5 linked regions of the Homo sapiens genome follow. The protein of the gene in region 3 purifies or fractionates together with the protein of the main gene of each other region. This does not show direct contact. Each region holds a gene or a part of one and is shown on either strand. Other genes may lie near its edges. The genes, in order: VSIG1, HK1, ZMPSTE24, GALNT2 and AKR7A3.

What was found.
Region 1: the proteins of ZMPSTE24 (region 3) and VSIG1 purify together in Homo sapiens (co-immunoprecipitation; one large-scale study listed by IntAct). This does not show direct contact.
Region 2: the proteins of ZMPSTE24 (region 3) and HK1 fractionate together in Homo sapiens (co-fractionation; one large-scale study listed by BioGRID). This does not show direct contact.
Region 4: the proteins of ZMPSTE24 (region 3) and GALNT2 fractionate together in Homo sapiens (co-fractionation; one large-scale study listed by BioGRID). This does not show direct contact.
Region 5: the proteins of ZMPSTE24 (region 3) and AKR7A3 purify together in Homo sapiens (co-immunoprecipitation; one large-scale study listed by IntAct). This does not show direct contact.

Annotation. Positions count from the first base shown.
Region 1 is NC_000023.11:108,065,562-108,069,082, reverse strand, and holds part of VSIG1 (V-set and immunoglobulin domain-containing protein 1 isoform 2 precursor), read right to left. Parts: intron 2,148-3,521; coding exon 1,949-2,147; intron 1-1,948.
Region 2 is NC_000010.11:69,325,326-69,328,846, reverse strand, and holds part of HK1 (hexokinase-1), read right to left. Parts: intron 1-3,521. UniProt on the Homo sapiens protein: Catalyzes the phosphorylation of various hexoses, such as D-glucose, D-glucosamine, D-fructose, D-mannose and 2-deoxy-D-glucose, to hexose 6-phosphate (D-glucose 6-phosphate, D-glucosamine 6-phosphate, D-fructose 6-phosphate, D-mannose 6-phosphate and 2-deoxy-D-glucose 6-phosphate, respectively).
Region 3 is NC_000001.11:40,268,226-40,271,746, reverse strand, and holds part of ZMPSTE24 (CAAX prenyl protease 1 homolog), read right to left. Parts: intron 3,329-3,521; coding exon 3,212-3,328; intron 1,773-3,211; coding exon 1,620-1,772; intron 1-1,619. UniProt on the Homo sapiens protein: Transmembrane metalloprotease whose catalytic activity is critical for processing lamin A/LMNA on the inner nuclear membrane and clearing clogged translocons on the endoplasmic reticulum.
Region 4 is NC_000001.11:230,245,233-230,248,753, forward strand, and holds part of GALNT2 (polypeptide N-acetylgalactosaminyltransferase 2 precursor), read left to right. Parts: intron 1-830; coding exon 831-918; intron 919-3,521. UniProt on the Homo sapiens protein: Catalyzes the initial reaction in O-linked oligosaccharide biosynthesis, the transfer of an N-acetyl-D-galactosamine residue to a serine or threonine residue on the protein receptor.
Region 5 is NC_000001.11:19,285,971-19,290,096, forward strand, and holds the start of AKR7A3 (aldo-keto reductase family 7 member A3), read right to left. Parts: upstream 2,801-4,126; 5' UTR 2,740-2,800; coding exon 2,526-2,739; intron 2,391-2,525; exon of another isoform or gene 2,090-2,390; intron 403-2,089; coding exon 215-402; intron 23-214; coding exon 1-22. UniProt on the Homo sapiens protein: Catalyzes the NADPH-dependent reduction of various carbonyl-containing compounds, including aldehydes, ketones, and toxic products from cellular metabolism or environmental exposure.

The sequences.
Region 1 (3,521 bases), on a different chromosome or scaffold from region 3:
TTGTTTCTGGTCAGAACATCCCAGAACCAGGAAGCAACAGAAAATCATTAGCTAATCCCTCCAGTTTTTGAACATTTAAAAACCCCTTTGATCTCCAGTATTTCATTTTATAGGTAAAATAACAAAACTGTTCATAACAAACCTGTAAAGAAGACAGGGCAGAAATTATAACCCCATCTCACAATGGTCAGAGAAAGGTGGACTGACTTGTATAAGGTCACTGAGTACAGAGTAAGATCTAAAACTCAGGTCTTCTGAGTGCCAGTTTGATGCTTTGGCATTTATAGCACATCACTTAGTTCCCATGTATATAACTAACTAGTTGATATGGTTTGGATCTGTGTCCCCACCCAAACCTCATGTCAAATTGTAATCACTAATTTTGGCGATAGGGCCTGGTGAGAGGTGACTGGATCATGGGGGCGGATTTCCCCCTCGGTGCTGATCTTGTGATAGTGAATGAGTGCTCATAAGACCTGGTTGTTTAAAAGTGTGTGGCATCTTCCCCTCCCCTTCCTCCTGTTCCAGCCATGTGAGACATCTTGCCTCCCCTTTGCTTTCTGCCATGATTGTAGTTTCCTGAGGCTTCCCAAGAAGCTGCTATGCTTCCTGTACAGCCTGCAGAACCGTGAGACAATTAAACCTCTTTTACTTATAAATTACCCAGTCTCAGGTATTTCTTTACAGCAATGCAAGAATAGACTAATACACTAGTCTTCCAAACTGAAACAGAAACTCTCCCAGGAATTTGCTTGAGTAATACTTCTCTTGTCTGTTCCTGTACCCCAATTCCTGGCACAGAACTCAGTAAGATAAAAATATGATTGATTAAGCTAACCCACTCTTAAAAAATAGCTCTTAGGTACCTTTCCCTCTTTCCCAGGTGGGTAGATGCAGTGGCAAACCTCACAGTAAATGTCAGCTGGTTCCTTTGTGGCATTACCTGAGTGGCAAGCCAGGACAACTGTAAACAGTTCTCTTGGGTATGCACCTTGTTACCAATTGCTGCTTTTCCAAGCTACTCAACTATTAAGTCACTGATTTGATGTAGTTCCTCCTTTCTTGTGATGTGTGCACACAGCTTGAGAGCAGCAATGACTAGATCAGCTTCATTTGGGGCTACCTAGAAGTGGGAAAATGCTCATCTCAACTGGTCTGTCTGTAAGAGTTGAGGATTGGCAGCCCTTTCATCCCTTGCTTCGATACTTCCCAATACCAGCCTGCAGATGGAAGTTTAGCCCACATTGTCCTCTCAGACAGAGATTGTAAGGACTTCTAGAAATGGCCAAAATTGGGAGCTTCCCAAGGGCAAAAACAACACCTCCATCACTGTAACTCAATAAATACTGAACAAATGAGATTCCAAATTCATTTTAAGAGCAGATACGGCTTGCCCAATATCATATAATGAATATTTGTATGTAAATATGTTGATTCTCAACACTAGATTAATTTCAGTCCTTTTTCCAAATAACATTAGCATTTTAAAAAAGGGACTCTCCTGTCTTTATTTAAAAGAATAATTTAATGGTGGGAATTGTGTCGAGCTTAAAAGGAATAATAAGTTGACAGTAGTCTCCCCCAGGTAGATCTGGCTGTAAATGGAGGTTTCCTCTAAAAGAGTTGCTAGTGATCATTTTGTGGGACAGTGGATTGTCTCATCTGTTCTCATTCCATCCCTCAGAGATAGGGATCACTGGAGGTTGGGTCATCTACTGCTGTCATTTTGGCAGCCCGTTTGCACAATTGTTCTGCATGTTTTATGAGTGATTTCTCAGTGTTACTGTTTTGGTTGGGCTGGTGGCTTGTCTCTATTTCCCTGATAATGAAAATATTAGGGAGTATATTTACCTACAGAGACTTAATTGGCATCATAACTCACTGTCCTGGCTCATTCAGTGTCCTAACTTTTTCCAAGAAAAGAAAAAGCAGAAAAAAGTGCTCATACCTAACACACTGACGTTGAGGATGCCTTGGTTTTGGCCGAGAAAGTCTGGGGGGTTGTTAACATCGCAGATGTAAATTCCACTGTCTGCTGGCTGCATATGCGAGATAGTGATAGATGCATTACCTGGATCGTTGGACCCTGTAATTCGATCTTTAAATTGCCCGATGGCTACAGCTTGTCCACCTTGAGAAAAGTAAATCTAGACAGAAAAATAACAGAAGTGAGAACTGGAGAGAGTCCAGGACTAGGATAAGCTACCTGAAAGCTTCTTCTAAACACATTACCTTTGATAAAGAAGCAGCATCTTCCCCCCACCAGGAACAGGTCCCTGTGGCCAAGGTTTCTCAACTCAGTGGGGCACTTTAGTTTGCTCACAGCTGCGCATTTGGCCCTCAGAGCAGCTCTGTGATGTCATCAGGGCAGGGATTAGTATGCCTATCTTACAGAGGAGGAGGCAGCTGGAGCTGACAGGATTCAACACCTAAGCTTGGGCTAGGAGATCAAGATGCTCACTTAATGAATCCACCTGAGAGAAACTCATTATGTAGAACACAAATGTCTGATGGGAAACCAAAACCATCATTTTTTTTTTTTTACCATTTTATAAACTTCTTAAAATTTGAATTTACCTTACCCAGTGAGACTATCTGGTTTCCTTAAATGTTCAAATGTTCATGCTCCTTTTAGACACACCTACTCTTTTGGATAGACAAACTTGGGTTTGTTTTGTTTATTAGAAGCAAAGCGGAAAAGCATCTTAGAAATCATCTGGTCCCATCCCTTTATAGTGGTGTTGTGAAGATGAAACTAAGAAATCTAGTAAAGGACCTCGGAAGTGCTCAGCCAATGATAGCTACCATCTTTCTCCCCATGTGGCAGAAGGCAGAACTGGAATTCTTCTGTCATTTAAACAAATAAGGCATCTCAGACCCAGAGAGATTAAGTGACCCATCTGAAGCCACAAGGGCTCATTTATTATTATTATAACTTATTAAACTTAAGATCTGGATTCTAGTCCCATTTCTATTAAAGAGCATAGATACTTAGATCATAATGGCAACTGTGGGAGCAGCATGATGTGGTGGAAAGGGTCCTGGTCTAGGGGTCAGGTGGCTTGAGTTAGTCACAGCTCTGCCCCTCACTGTGATATAGTTAGGGGAGGTGGCCTCTAGTCATGCCTCCATGGCAGCCTGGTTTTAGATAAGAAACAAAGTTATTTAATCTCTCCAACCTTTACTTTCCACATCTGAATGAGAAAAGAGAGTAATGTTTTCCAAAGTATGATATGTATTTACCAAGTATAGGCATTTAAGTTGATTTTAGGTAGTATATAAATGAAAACTTACAAATTTCAATGTGTATTAGAAACAGAAAAATCTAGCACATTAAATCTATGACTTCCTGAATATTGTTGCATAGGGTAGATTAAGGTAGATATTTTTTAAGATTTTAAGAAAACAAGTCAATACAGAAAATAACATTAAATAACAAATAGTGCTGGTGATACACAAATATGACAAAAATCATGTAGATGGTACATGAATGACTGAAGCTGGGAAATCACTGGATTAGG
Region 2 (3,521 bases), on a different chromosome or scaffold from region 3:
AAAAAAAAGGTAGATAGTGGTTGCCAGAAGCTAGGTGGAGGAAGAAATGGGAAGTGACTGCTAACGGGTAGTTTTTTTCGGAGGGTGATGAAAATATTCTGGAATTAGATGGTGATGGTGCTCGGACAACCTTGTAAATCTATTAGAAACCACTGAATTGTACACTGTACAATGATGCGTTTCATGGTAGGTGAATTATAACTCAATTGAGAAAATAATAAAAGCAGGAGCTCTGCCATCAGCCTTGATGAGGCTGAATGCTGGCTCTATCGTTCACTATCTGGGCCTCACCGTCTGAAATCACACCCACCTCACAAGGGCGTTGTGGGGATGAACTAAGCAAAGGCTCACGATGCCTTTAGCACAGTACATGGCAATGAATACAACAATGAATGTTGGCTTTGGTTCATATGAGTACTAGAAATGATTAAATAAGACCCCTGCTAAGAAAAAGAAAAGCCGGGCGCCTAGTAGGCACTGAATGCCCCCTTCCCTGTAAGGCACCCTCGAGGTCTCCGAGTCTGGAGCCTGTAATCAGGCATAGACTCAAGATGAACATGAGCCGACATTTTCTGCCTCGCACAGGGACAGCTCAGCTTCTGTGTGCAAAGGGCTGAGCCGCCGACTTCACGGTTCAGTTTTCCCTGCCACGTGGGTACAGCCACCCTCTCCTTTTACGGAAGACGGTCTGAGAGGCTGCTGGCTTGAGTTTTCTCTGAGCAGAGCTGGGCACATTTACGCAACAGATAAGCCTGCCCTACCCGGGTCGGATCCACCCGGGAAGAGAGAAAGTGTGTGCAAGTGAAAGCTCACAAATGTGTGTTTCAACTCCCAGAAAAGCTTAACGGAGTCAGCCCACAGCACCAGGGGCCATGGAGAGCCATCCTAAGCCTTTCCCTGCATCAACTATCCCTCCCCAGTGCAGATATCTCAGCAGCAGCAGTCCATGGAGCTGTCAACTTCAGTCCGTGGGACTCTGAAGCAAGGACTCTGATAAGGTAACTCAGGAAATGGGCTAATTTTAAACACAGCTCGAATACTGTGATGTGAATGGAAACAACTGAGGAAGGAAACAGACTAAAACTCATCTATTACAAATTTGCAAAGGTTTGACCATAACAAGGGTTGGTGTGGAACAAAGGCAACCTGCACATACTTCCGATGGGAGTGTGAACTGGCATGACCACGGATGGCAACTTGGCAGAATCTCGTATATGGGAAAACGCACACATCTCTCCGCCTGGTGATCTCAGCCCTAGGTACACAGCTTAGAGCCTAGAGAAACTTGTGCATGCGCTGAATGAGTTGTTCTAGAGAAAGTTCACCAAGGCATTGTTTGTCACTTGAAACATTAGAAACACAAATGCCTATCAAAAGCAGAATAGATGAATTAACTAGGGAGCTTTTATACTCTGTAAGAAACCAGAGCAGTTTAATGAAACAGTTACGTAGATCAACATTTTTAAAATCTCAAAAATACAATGTTGAGCTAAAAGAAAGTAAATGGCGGAAGGATACATACAGTATAGCACCATTTATAAGAGTTTAAAACTGGCTGAGTGTGGGGGCTCAGGCCTATAATCCCAGAACTTTGGAAAGAGGCCTAGGCAGGTGGATCACTTGAGGTCAGGATTTTGAGACCAGCCTGACCAACATGGTGAAACCCCGTCTCTACTAAAAATACAAAAAAATTAGCCAGGTATGATCTCAGCTACTCAGGAGGCTGAGGCAGGAGGATTGCTTGAACCCAGGAGGCAGAGGTTGCTGTGAGCTGAGACCGTGCCACTGCACTCCAGCCTGGGCAACAAAATGAGATTCCATCTCAAAAAAAAAAAAAAAAAAAAAAGTTTAAAACCACACAAAGCAATACCATATATTGCTTAAACACATAGTCAGTATAGCACCATTTACAAAAGATCAAAACCATATATCTATAAAGCAATACCATATACTGTTTATAGACATATGCATATGTAATAAAAGCGTAAAAACATGCATGAAAAGATAAACACCAAATTCAGGACAGAGGTCACCTCCGAAGGGAGAAGCAGCAAACTATCTCAGAGATGGCATAGAAAGGGCTTCAACTGTGTCTGTAATGTAATTGTAATTGTGTCTATAACTTCTCAAGCTGAGTAGCAGACTCAGAGGTGTTTATGTGAACCTCAATCTTCTTTTATGTGCCTCAAATATTTCATAATAAAAAATTAACTCAAATGTATTGATTTGTGAGGGGACAGTATTAAAATACAGGTTCCAAGGTAAAACATTAAAATCAACAAGGACAGGTTTTTCTCCTAAAAGAAGGAAACAGAGGAAGCAAGAAGAGCCCTCTGAATCCTATTCCTGATTTTCTTTCGACCTTAGAAAAATGTTTTATCTCCTCTGGATGGGCCTTCAGTCTCTGTTTCTAAATGGGGAATAAATTGCTTGCCTTCTGTCTGCAACACACAAGGCAGGCAGCAGGATGCCCTGGGGAGGGAGCCGTGCTGGGAAGCCCGGGAATAATACTTCCTGTACTGACAACCTCGCTGAGGCTTTTGAAAGAGCATATGAAAGCATACACACACCTACACATATGTTAGTATAGTTGTGTGCAGAAACATTTATAGTGTAATCTCAATTACATATATATATAATTCATACCCGACATGACACTCACGAAGTGTTCCAGGATGCCCAGAGACAAAAAGCCATTAAAAAAAAAAAAAGCGGCCAGGCGCGGTGGCTCACGTCTGTAATCCCAACACTTTGGGAGGCCGAGGCGGGTGAATCACGAGGTCAGGAATTCAAGACCAGCCTGGCCAACACGGTGAAACCCCGTCTCTACAAAAAATACAAAAAATTAGCTGGGTGTAGTGGCAGGCACCTGTAATCCCAGCTACTAGGGAGGCTGAGGCAGAAGAATCGCTTGAACCTGGCAGGCAGAGGTTGCAGGGAGGTGAGATCGTGCTACTGTACTACAACCCAGGCGACAGAGTAAGACTCTGTCTCAAAAAAAAAAAATGCAGTCCAGAGGCAGTAGCTGGCACCCGTAATCCCAGCATTTCGGGAGGCCAAGGCGGGCAGATCACTTGCGGTCAGGAGTTTGAAACCAGCCTGGCCAACATGGTGAAACCCAGTCTCTATTTAAAATACAAAAATTAGCCGGGCATGGTGGCAGGCGACTGTAATCCCAGCTACTGGGGGGCAGGGGGGGGCACTGAGGCAGAAGTATCACTTGAACCCGCGAGATGGAGGTTTCAGTGAGCTGAGATCACACCACTGCACTCCAACCCAGGATACAGAGTGAGACCCCATCTCAAAAAAAAAAAAAAAAATGCAGGCCAGGAGCATTGGCTGGTGCCTGTAATCCCAGCTACTCAGGAGGCTGAGGCAGGAGAATCGCTTGAACCCAGGAGACAGAGGTTGCAATGAGCCGAGATCACATCACTGCATTCCAGCCTGGGCAACAGAGCAGAACTCCATCTCAAAAAAAAAGAATAAGAAAATACATGGCCGGGTGTGGTGGCTCACACCTG
Region 3 (3,521 bases):
ATAGTACCAGATAGTAAGAGCATAATATCTGTCTGATGAATTAAATTGAAATGAGTAGTCTGATAACAGAGTAAACTTATGAATTTTATTTTAAAGGATAATGCTACTAACAGTGATTAAAATCTCTAGGTGGTAATAAGTATAGTCCTTTCAAAACTATCTTGGGGATTTCTGATGCTTCATGAGTCAATCATAACACGCAGTTCTACCTTTTAGCGTAATCACAATAGACCTGAAGTCTTTCCCAAAAAAGAATTAGTAGAACTTGATTGTGTGCTGTTACTTGGTTGGCTTATCAGCTAAAATTAATTACCTGTAGTTCATAATTGTACAATGTGGTTGAAATAGCACTTCCTTAAGCATTTTTAGAGCATTTTCTCTGCTCTTTTTCATCTTACTTTAATTTGCCATACAATAGATACCTGTAAATCCAACTAGCGCCCATTTTCTGATCTTGATCCCATCAATGGAAAATGAAACAATGAGCATTATGTAATTCAGACTAAAATAAACCTCAGCTTGGGCATGGTGTCACACACCTGTAGTCCCAGCTACTCAGGAGGCCAAGGCAGGAGGACTGCTTGAGCCCAGGAGCTCAAAGCTGTAGTGCACTATGATCATGCCTGTGAAATAGCCACTGTACTCCAGCCTGGGCAACACAGGGAGGCCCTATCTCTAAAATAAAATAAACCTCATCAGTGGAGCTGAAGAGCTGATAGATGATAATTTCTGGGTGCACTGAACAGACCACTTTGGGTTTTTTCATTTGGGTTTTTTAAAAATTATTATTTGTAGAGACAGAGTCTCACTGTGTTACCCAGGCTGGTCTTAAACTCTTGGGCTTAAGCAATCCTCCCACCTTGGCTTCCCAAAGTGCCAGGATTACAGGCATAAGCCACTGTGCCTGGCCCTGAACAGACCATTTTGACTGCGTTGTAGTGTTTGTGTTGTGAAGCACTTGAGAGTATGGAAAGAGAAGAGGAATAGGAGATGTGAGGGAGGGAAAAATCAGGGGGAAAAGAGTGAGAGGGAAAAGGAAAGGAGAAGAGAGGCAGGAATAGGTGGCAGTTGGGGAGAAAAGGGAAGACAGGAGAAGGAAAGGAAGAAGAATGGGTAAAAGATAGAAGGGGAAGGGGAAGCAGATGGGGCAAAGAAGGGAGAGAGTGTCTAACGTGGAAGGGAAAGGCAAGGGAAGGGAAGCAGAAGAAAGCCAGTTAAGTATATGCTTTCTTTCTCTTGTCCCTCTTAAATCTCATTTCTCTTCAAAATAACCATGATTTTAGGCAGTGGAGGTCAGTCAGGAGTCATTAAATTATCACACTTAGTCATTCTGGTGGCAACTCGCAAATGCACAACCCAAAACTGCCTGACAACTGAATCATTAAAAGTGACTAACAACTAGTTTCTATGACCTGAAGAGTTAGCATAAGGAGAAGGAAATTTATGGTCAGTCAATACTCCTGTGTCTACAATCAAAAGCAGAAACCAAGGGGGAAATGTATATAAGCACCTATTTATATTTCAGCTGCTTCTTAAGAACTGTTTACATGCCAATGAAGATTACAGTAATCTCACCAAGGAACTTTTGCAAAAGAAAACGAAATAAAGATTTTACTCACCAGAGACACAACTAATGTGAACAGCCAGGCATAAATAAAAAAATAGTCACCCCCAATTTTAATAATGTAAAGTAGAAGTGAAGACACAGGCAACAAAATACACTGAGTCACAACAAATTTCTTGATTGCATCTTTCATGAAGAACCCCAAAGTCTGCAAAAAGAAAACATTACCACAAGAAACTGAGAAACTGGTTCTGCTTTTTAAAATAACTGATAAATAAATACAAAGGATACATTATTAAAGCAATTTTTAAAATTAACATGCAGTGAAACTATATTATATGACATTAGGCAGCTTAAGACAATGGGTAAATGTCTTGCATTTTACAGCTGAAAATTCATTTAAACCTTATTAACTGAGGACGAGTGCAGTGGCTCACAACTGTAATTCCAGCACTTTGGAAGGCCTAGATGGGAGGATTGCTTGAGCCCAGTAGTTCCAGGCCAGCCTGGGCAACATAGTGAGACCCTGTCACTACTAAAAATAATAATAAAAAAATTAACCCAGTGTAGTATAATTCATCTATAGTCCCAGATACTAGGCAGGCTGAGGTGGGAGGATTGCTTGAATCTGGAAGGTCGTGGCTACAGTGAGCCATGATCCTGCCACTGCACTCCAGCCTAGGTGACAGAACGAGACCCTGTCGCAAACAAACAAATGATTAGTAGCTGAAAAACAATAGATATTAGTGCTAAAGGAGTTTATAACATAAATTTCTTTTTTTTTTTTAAGAGACAGGTCTGGCTCTGTTGCCCAGGTTGGAGTACAGTGGCACAATGATGGCTCACCGTAGCCTCAACCTCCTGGGCTCAAGCAATCCTCCTGCTTTAGCCTCCCAAGTAGCTGGGACTTCAGGTGCATGCCACCACAACTGGCTTTTAGAATTTTTTTGTAGAGATGAAGTCTCACTATACTATCCAAGCTGGTCTTGAACTCCTGAACTCAAGTGATCCTCCCGCCTTAGCCTCCCAAAGTGTTGGGATTACAGGCGTGAGCCACTGTACCCAGTCAAGACTTTTTTTCTTTCTTTTTTTTTTTTTTTTTTTTTTTTGAGACGGAGTCTTGCTGTCACCCAGGCTGGAGTGCAGTGGCGAGATCTCAGCTCACTGCAAGCTCTGCCTCCCGGGTTCACGCCATTCTCCTGCCTCAGCCTCTCGAGTAGCTGGGACTACAGGCGCCCACCACCAAGCCCGGCTAATTTTTTGTATTTTCAGTAGAGACGGGTTTCACGGTGTTAGCCAGGATGGCCTCGATCTCCTGACCTTGGGATCCACCCGCCTCAGCCTCCCAAAGTGCTGGGATTACAGGCATGAGCCACTGGGCCTGGCCTTAAGTATTTTTTTTTTAAAATCAGTGTTGACCAGGTTGGCCTCGAACATGTAGCCTTGCCTCCCCGAGTGCCAGGGCAACTGGCCAGAGCCACCGCGGCCCCCAAGACTTTCAGCTATGATCTTTACCATATCTGTAGTTCCCTTTTTTCTCAATTCATACTCTGAAATAGTAAATTATGTTTAAATTATAAACAGTACAGGACAAAAGCACAGAAGTTTTTCACATTTAAAAGAGAACATTTGTATTCTTTATTATACCTGTTGATTGAAGCCATGTTTTTCTTCTATCACAAAAGTATTATAAAGACTCCATGGCAAACCAGTCAATGCACTGAAAAGTGTAGCCAACAGCAGAAACACCAGGGACTGAGTGATCTAAACAAAAGAAAAAACAAAAATCCAGTTTTTATGAACTACTGGCAAACAAATCAACAAGTATTTGCTGAGCACTTACTTACTACATCCCAAGCAATATGCTTGATTCTATGGATAACATAAGGTCTGAAATATCATCCCTGCCTTCAAAAAAGTTTACTTTTGAGAGAAGTAAATGAGAAACAAAACAATT
Region 4 (3,521 bases), about 190 Mb from region 3:
GCAGGCAGATCACCTGAGGTCAGAAGTTCAAGAATAGCCTGACCAACATGGAGAAATCCCATCTCTACTAAAAATACAAAAATTAGCTGGGCGTGGTGGTGCATATCTGTAATCCCAGCTGCTTGGGAGGCTGAGGCAGTAGAATCACTTGAACCCGCGAGGCGGCGGTTGTGGTGAGCCAAGATCACGCCATTGCACTCCAGCCTGGGCAACAAGAGTGAAACTCCGTCTCAAAAAAAAAACAAAACAAAAAAACAAAAAAGATAGAATTACAGATGAGGCAAACGTAGAATCTGGAAATCTCTGGTTGATTTGGTTAACCTTCTGCTGTGATAATATTGATACTTACCACATCTCTCTCACACACACACACTCCCACATAGAAATATATTCCTAATTTTGATGTATGAGCATTTTAGCAGTGACTCCATTCCTGAAGTTTACTGCAGCTCACAAATCACTAATGGTATTTGGGCAAACAGAAAAGGACCCTTGGGACACAGCAACACAGTTTTTGCCTTTAGCTGGGTGAACTGATGGCTACCTGTCCCATAACCATGGGTGTCTCCACTCCTAGAGTGACTCCTGCTACGCACCCACTCCTGACCTCCCTCCCTGCCTCCCAGCAGGCCACAGCACATCTGTGGATGGCCAAGAGCAAGACCTTCTGGGTCTGGGTGGGGAGGCTGGGTTCTTGAGGGCCTAGGGTAGTAGGTAGTAAGGGCCAGTTGGGTTTGCCCTGTGCCTGCCTAATACTAATGCCTTCTGTGGTTGGGCAGGTTTTTTGTTTTGCTGGGATTTTGATAACTACTCCTCTCTTTGTATTTTAGGACAGGACTCGGGTTGTGTCACCCATCATCGATGTCATTAATATGGACAACTTTCAGTATGTGGGGGCATCTGCTGACTTGAAGGGCGGTAGGTGTCTGTCATGGTGCCCCTGCCTAGCTCGTCCCGTCTACACCAGCATCTGATCACCACTCCCTCTCATTGTCAGGAGTGACAGTGACAACAGTGTTCACGCCGTAGTGTGTGTTCTGAGTAAAAACCACCTGTGTGCTTAACGAGTAGGACTTCATAAAGAGAAAAAAAAATAGGCTTGCTCCCTTAAAGAGCTTCCTGGGTTTCCCTTTCTCCTCTTCCTTGACCTTCTGTCACTTTTGCGAGCCATGTGGTTCCATGAACAGATATGGCGTCCTTTATGACCAGAGATGATGAAGCCCTCCTTGCAGGAATCTGGGGTGAGAAGCTTCACGGAGCTGAGGCTTTGTGGGATTCAAGGGGCTGGAGCCTGTCTTTGCCTTCTCTGCTCACCCTGGCTATTTCTCTGACAGCCTGGTCTCTTTCTGGTTGCTCAGATGGAGACCTGTGTCATCCTCAACCCCCTCGCCCTCACCAAGCCCACGTGTGACCCTGTTCTGCTGATACAGCCCCTTGCATGTATCATGGTTTCTTGTACCCCTCTTTCCCAGCCCAACACCTGTGCCTACATCACCCTGGTCCCCTTCCGTTGGAATGACCACACCAGTTTCCTGTATGTCCTCACCGCACCCACCCTGGAGCCCCAAGAGCACTTTGTCTGTTTACCCTCTTAAAAATTATCAAAGACCTCAAAGAGCTTTCATCTGTGTGAAGATGAACTATTCTAGATAGACACTGGGCAGAGGGTTAACTGATGGTCTAACATCAAAAAAGAAGACAGTAAAACTATAAAATAGGGCCTTGACCAGGTGCAGTGGCTCACGCTTATAATCCCAGCACTTTGGGGAGGCTAAGGTGGGAGGATTGCTTGAGCCCAGGAGTTCAAGACCAGCCTGGGCAACATAACAAGACTCTTGTCTCTATTAAAAAAAAAAAAAAAAATTAGCTGCGTGTGATGGCATGCCAGCTACTCGGGGCTAAGGTGGGAGGATCACTTGAGCCTGGGAGGTCAAGGCTGCAGTGAGCCACGATCAACCCTGGGAGACAGAGTGAGACCCTGCTTATTCATACACACACACATATGTGTGCAAGCAAGCCTTAACCCCAGAAAACAGAATACTTGGACTTTTTAGGGAGACTCAGCCACGGTCCTAGACATTGTGGGCTTTGGCCCCACCTGCCTCTTGCAGGCCCCGTCATCATGGGCAGGCCATTTTGCCTCTGCTTCTCAGCTTCCCCCTCTGGGAAATGGGATGATAATTGTGCTGGCCACACAGGGCATAATGGAATTAGACATCAGCGGGAGGGCGGGCATGCTTGGAGGACTGTACCTAGGGTGGGAAACATAACATTCAGGAACGATTCCCAGCAAATGGTGAGAAGTAAAATGTTTGGGGACATTAAAGAGGAGGGATCCTTAGATAGCTAGAAAGCCTGGCTTTCAGAATGTTGTATTTCCCCAAGTATTCGAAGAGCTGAGATCTACCAGGCTCTATTTCTCCCAAAGCAGCTGCGTATGTCAGAGCAGGGGCAAGAACAGCCAGGTGTTCCGTGTGGGGGTGCAGGTCTTCTGGGTCAGAGGAACGGGGCCACGTTCACCCTAAGAGCATTTTATGAAATTCCTTTAGAAAAAAAATCAAGGATGCCATTCTTAACAGATCTTTAATCTGCTATAGCCTCTCTCTTTGGACCAAATTAATAAAATAAATAATAAGATAATAGTAAACATCAAAAAAACAAAGGAAAGGTTATGTCAGCTAATCCTTAACCTTCTCTGTTAGTGAAACAGCCAGGACATTGTTTTTCTGGTTTTCCTTCGTGGCCTTTGAGGCACCATGATAAGAGCCAGCTCAGGGGCCCGCAGGGGTCTCCTCTCTGTGCATTTCTGTCCCCACTGCCTGGGCCCCTGTCCATTTCCCTCTCTCTTTGCCTGAGGCCACTCTATCCTGCAGTGAGGGAGCTGGGAGGCCTCTTTGTCCAGAGCCATAAATTCTTGGCCAGCCCAGGACACTCAGAAACCCTCACCCGCCATCCTTCAGTCACTGGGGCTGTCAGGGCGGACAGACTATGAATTCAAAGCATGCAGACAAATCCAAACTTAGGCATTGCAAAAGCCCTGTTGACAAAAAGCCTGATGGCAGAGAGCTTAAGAGGATTGAAAGATGCATGCCCTAGAGTCATTAGGTTTTGCTGTCAGACCCTTGGAATTGGAAATGCAGCACCATGAGCCATGTGTTTGCCAAGAAGTGGCCTCCTGATGCACCAGGACAGCTTCCGCAGGTGGAGCCTGCTGGCCTCCAAGAGGCACTATGTGTGTGACCCTGGGAGCAAGAGCGAGACCTGAGGCCCTGCAGATGCCCACAACCAAGTCCGGGTACAGGGTCTAGGCTCTTCTATCCTCAGGGGTCTGTGGATTCCAAAAATGAAATGCAACAGGTGCCAAATATATCTGAAATTGAAGCTTATTTGCCCAGCTTGGCAACTTCCGCTGGCTCATTTTCCCTTAAAGTTTTCATATTCCCAGCATGTTCCCACTCCATTCTTGCTGCAAATACAGTCTGAAGTTTGCTGGCCCAGGGAACTGACAAAGCCTCGTTCCC
Region 5 (4,126 bases), about 21 Mb from region 3:
GGCCAAGCTCCACGAACTTGCCCTGCTCAGGTGAGGCTCCAGTCAGAACATAGTGCAGCCCAGACCAGGAAAGGGAGGCCAGGGTGGGGCCCCTGGGAGTTGGGCTGTTCCCTGCTCCACCCTGGAACAGCCCTGGTGCCTCTGCTCTCACCATTAGGATCAGGATAAGGAGAGCAGCAGTGGACCACCTCCCAGAGCTCAGGGGTCCCCTCACCTCCTGGTGCAGCTGGTGGCAGGCACGCAGTGTCTCTTCCACCGGGGTGCTGTGGTCTGGCATATGCAGGTAGAAGAGGTCCACTCGGGGACACTGCAGCCGCTTCAGTGACGTCTCCAGCTGGAACCGGAGACTGTCAGGCTTCAGGGAGTTCCCAAACAGTGGAATGGCCTTGGTATCAATTTTCACTGAGAGGAAAGAGAAATGAAATTCAGGGCCAGGCGCCGTGGCTCATGCCTGTAATCCCAGCACTTTGGGAGACTGAGGCAGGCAAATCAGAAGGTCAGGAGTTCAAGACCAGCTGGACCAACATGGTGAAACCCCATCTCTAATAAAAACACAAAAATTAGCTGGGCATAGTGGAGCCCGCCTGTAGTCCCCAGCTAGTCCGGAGTCTGAGGCAGGAGAATTGCTTGAACCCGGGAGGCGGAGGTTGCAGTGAGCCGAGATTGTGCCACAGCACAATGTCTCACAGAGTGAGACTTCTCAAAAAACAAACAAACAAACAAAACAAACAACAAAAAAAAAGAATCTTAGTTCCTAGTGAACTGGACTAACAGGTGAGTGGAGAGTCCTCTTCCCACTTTTCACACTTAGAAAGTCACCTAGGCTGGCAGGAGGGCAGTCACTGGAGCCCTTGAGGCCTAGCAAAGAGCAGGTTTGAGGAACTATTCATATGGAATTTTTCCATTCCACCACCACCCCTCTGCTTCTCAATTGAATTTAACTTCAGATCAGATCTGAGGACTTTCGCCAGCCAACCTTGGACTCAGACAGAAGACAAAGAAGGATTAAAAAAGGAAAGAAAAAAAAATCAGAAATAAGGGCCAGGCAGAGGGTACAGATCTGTGGTGGCTCACACCTGTAATCTCAGCACTTTGGGAGGCCAGAGCAGGAGGATCACTTGAGCTCAGGGGTTTAAGACCAGCCTGGGCAACAAAGTGAGACTCCAGTTTCAATGAATAATACAAAAAATTAGCCGGGTGTGGTGCTACTGTAGTAGTCCCAGCTACTCAGGAGACTGAGGTGGGAGGATGGCTTGAGCCCTGAGAGGTCAAAGCTGCAATGAGCCCTATCGCACCACTCCACTCCAGCCTGGGCAAAAAAGCAAGACCCTGTCTCAAAAAAAAAAAAAAAATCAGAAATATGGTTAGAGCTCTCACTGAGTGGCAGCCGGGTGATCTAGAAAGAGCGTGGCACTGGGATGCACGCACAGGCCAGGTTCGTTCTGGATCTACCATGTGGTGAATCAGAGGAGAAATAAGACTCCACTCAGACACTCAGTGGAAGGAGGCAAATGGTGCTAATACTAAGAACAAACAAACAGCTAACATTTCCCAGCCCTCACTATGTGCCTGCCAGGCATCGGCCTAAGCACTGCAAATGGCATCAGACTGAGGGCGGCTCCTCCTGCCCCTATACACACATCCTCCCCTCCGGCCACACCTGCCTCCTCCAGCACCCGCGGCATTGCCAAAACACATTTGCCTTTCCACACCCATGCCCACTGCCCTGACGCCCTTGCCCCTTGTACTCTTCCTGGCAAACTCCTATCCATTCTTTCTTCACGGGGTCCCTCCCAGGAAGGGGTCACTCTGGGCTCCCCAGCCATCTCTAGAACTGGAGCTTCCTGGAGTGGGTTAGTGTCCATTTCTCTCCAATAGCCTCCGACAGAGCCTCCCACAGAGAGGGCAGTGAGACTCTGTACCACCCCAATCCCTCATCCCCCTGAGGGAGCTGCCAAGGCTTCCGGGCACTGCCACCCTTGTGAGGTGCCCTTGTGAGTACCACAAGGTACTCAGAGCAAAGTCCGGGGCCCCGAGCAGGCTGGCATGTGCAAAGGAGGAAGCAGATAGTGTGCTGGGTCCAAACTCTGATTTTGGACTGTGCCAGGGAGTGCCAGGCGGTAAGAACAGAATTTCTGCAGATCAGGCCCGTCAAGGGCACCTGGAGGGCACAGGTGGGGACAGGAGCTGCACAATGCCAGATCCCAGTGTTTTTTGTGCTCCAGAGAGGGGCTAGCCAAGTCATTCCAGGCAAGACCAAGTCATCCAGGCGTCAGTGAGGGTGCTGGCTACCTCCCGGAAGAGAAGAGAGACGAACAGAAGAGAAGACGAGAGAAAAGTTGTCCGGAGCTAGACGTGCCTAAGGAGCCTGGTGTTCCCAAGGCTGCGAGGTGAACAGGGGTGGGGGCGGTGGGGGGGACAAAACTTTGGGTGCTGCCCCGGGGCCAGGGAGAGCGGGGCGGTACACGGCTGTGGACAGGCTCAGCTCTGCACCGTGCAGGGGGAGGATCAGGGGCCACTGTTACCTCTGCAGTCGCTGCCGCCCAGCCGGAGCCCCAGGCCGCCAAGGATGGTCTCGGACTGGCCCTCGCTGTACACGAAGGCCGTGTCTATCTCGGTGTGGCCGCGCTCCAGGAAGGCGCGCGTGACTGCGGCGCTGGTGGGCGCGTCCATGCGGCGCCCCATCTCCATGGCGCCCAGCACCGTGGCTGGCCGGGCCCGCGACAGCTGCCGGGACATGACGGCGGCAACGGGAGACTGTGACAGCCCAGGAGCCGCGCGCAGCGGTCGGAAGCACCAGGCTCGGAGCGGGCGGCCTCGTGGCTTTAGAGACGGGCTCGGGCCCCGCCCACCGGCGGGTGCAGCTGAGGGCGCGGCCGAAGGTGCCCGACGCCGCCCACGAGCTCGACTCCACGCTCGGCTACTAGGACCTTCTGCACTTGCACCGAGCAAGCAGCGAAATGGCTGTGGCTTCGTACCGGTGACTCGCGTCTTGGAGATTTTAACACTCCTCAACGTCCCCAAGGGTGAGGGGGTCCAAGGGTGGCGACTATCCCAAAAGGCGGGGACTCTTCGGGCCTCCCTGCCCCGTCGTCCCTCCTTCCTCGGCCTTGCCCCGGAGCTGTCCTGGGTTTCTGTCTCCTCCCGGAGGGAGCGCTTACGGGGTGGGGTGGACCTAGGGCTGTCGCGCCTGCCGTGTGGTCCTGGAGAATGAGGCTTACCAAAGGCTCAAGACAGCGTCCCCATGGAGTGACATGGTTAAAGTGTTGAAAGAAAAGAACTGTTGGCATTGAATTCTGTACCTAAGTGAAAAAAAACTGACTGGCTCTGGTGACTTAACGCCTGTAATGCCAACACTTTGAGAGATCAAGGCAGGAGGATCACTTGAGCCCAGGAGTTTGAACCCAGCCTGGGCAACATAGGGAGGCCCTGTCTCAAAAGAAAAAAAAAAAGATAGAAAAATGGACCAGTGCCCAGCGGCAGTGAGCTGTGATAGCTCTACTGCACTCCACCCTGGGTGACAGAGGGCAAATCTGTCTCCAAATACAAAAGAAAAAAAAAGACCAATAGACAGATGGAACAAATGAAAAACCAATAGCAAAATTGATTTAAACCCAATCATATCAATAATTACATAAATATAAATGATGTAAATGCTCACAAGTAAAAGGCAGTGATTGTTAGAATGGATAAAAAAGCAAAACCAAACTATATGGTAAATACCAGAAAGCTATTCAAATATAAAAGCAGAGATAGTTTAAGAGCAAAAAGATGGGAAAAGACATACACTGACAAAACTAAATTTTAAGAAGTTGGAATGGCTAAGTGAATATCAGACAAAGTAGATTGCAAAACAAAGAATACTGGCCCACACAGTGGGTGACATACTAGCCCACACCTGTAATGTTAGCACTTTGGGAGCCTGAGAAGGGAGGATTGCTTAAGTCCAGGAGTTTGAGACTAGCCTGGGCAACACAGGGAGATCTTATCGCTACAACAAAATTTTAAAAATTATCAAATTGTGGTAGCATGCACCTGTGGTCCCAGTTACTTGGGAGGCAGAGGTGGGAGAATCATCTACGCCTGGGAGGTCGAAGCTGCAGATTGAGACCCTGTCTCAAAACAG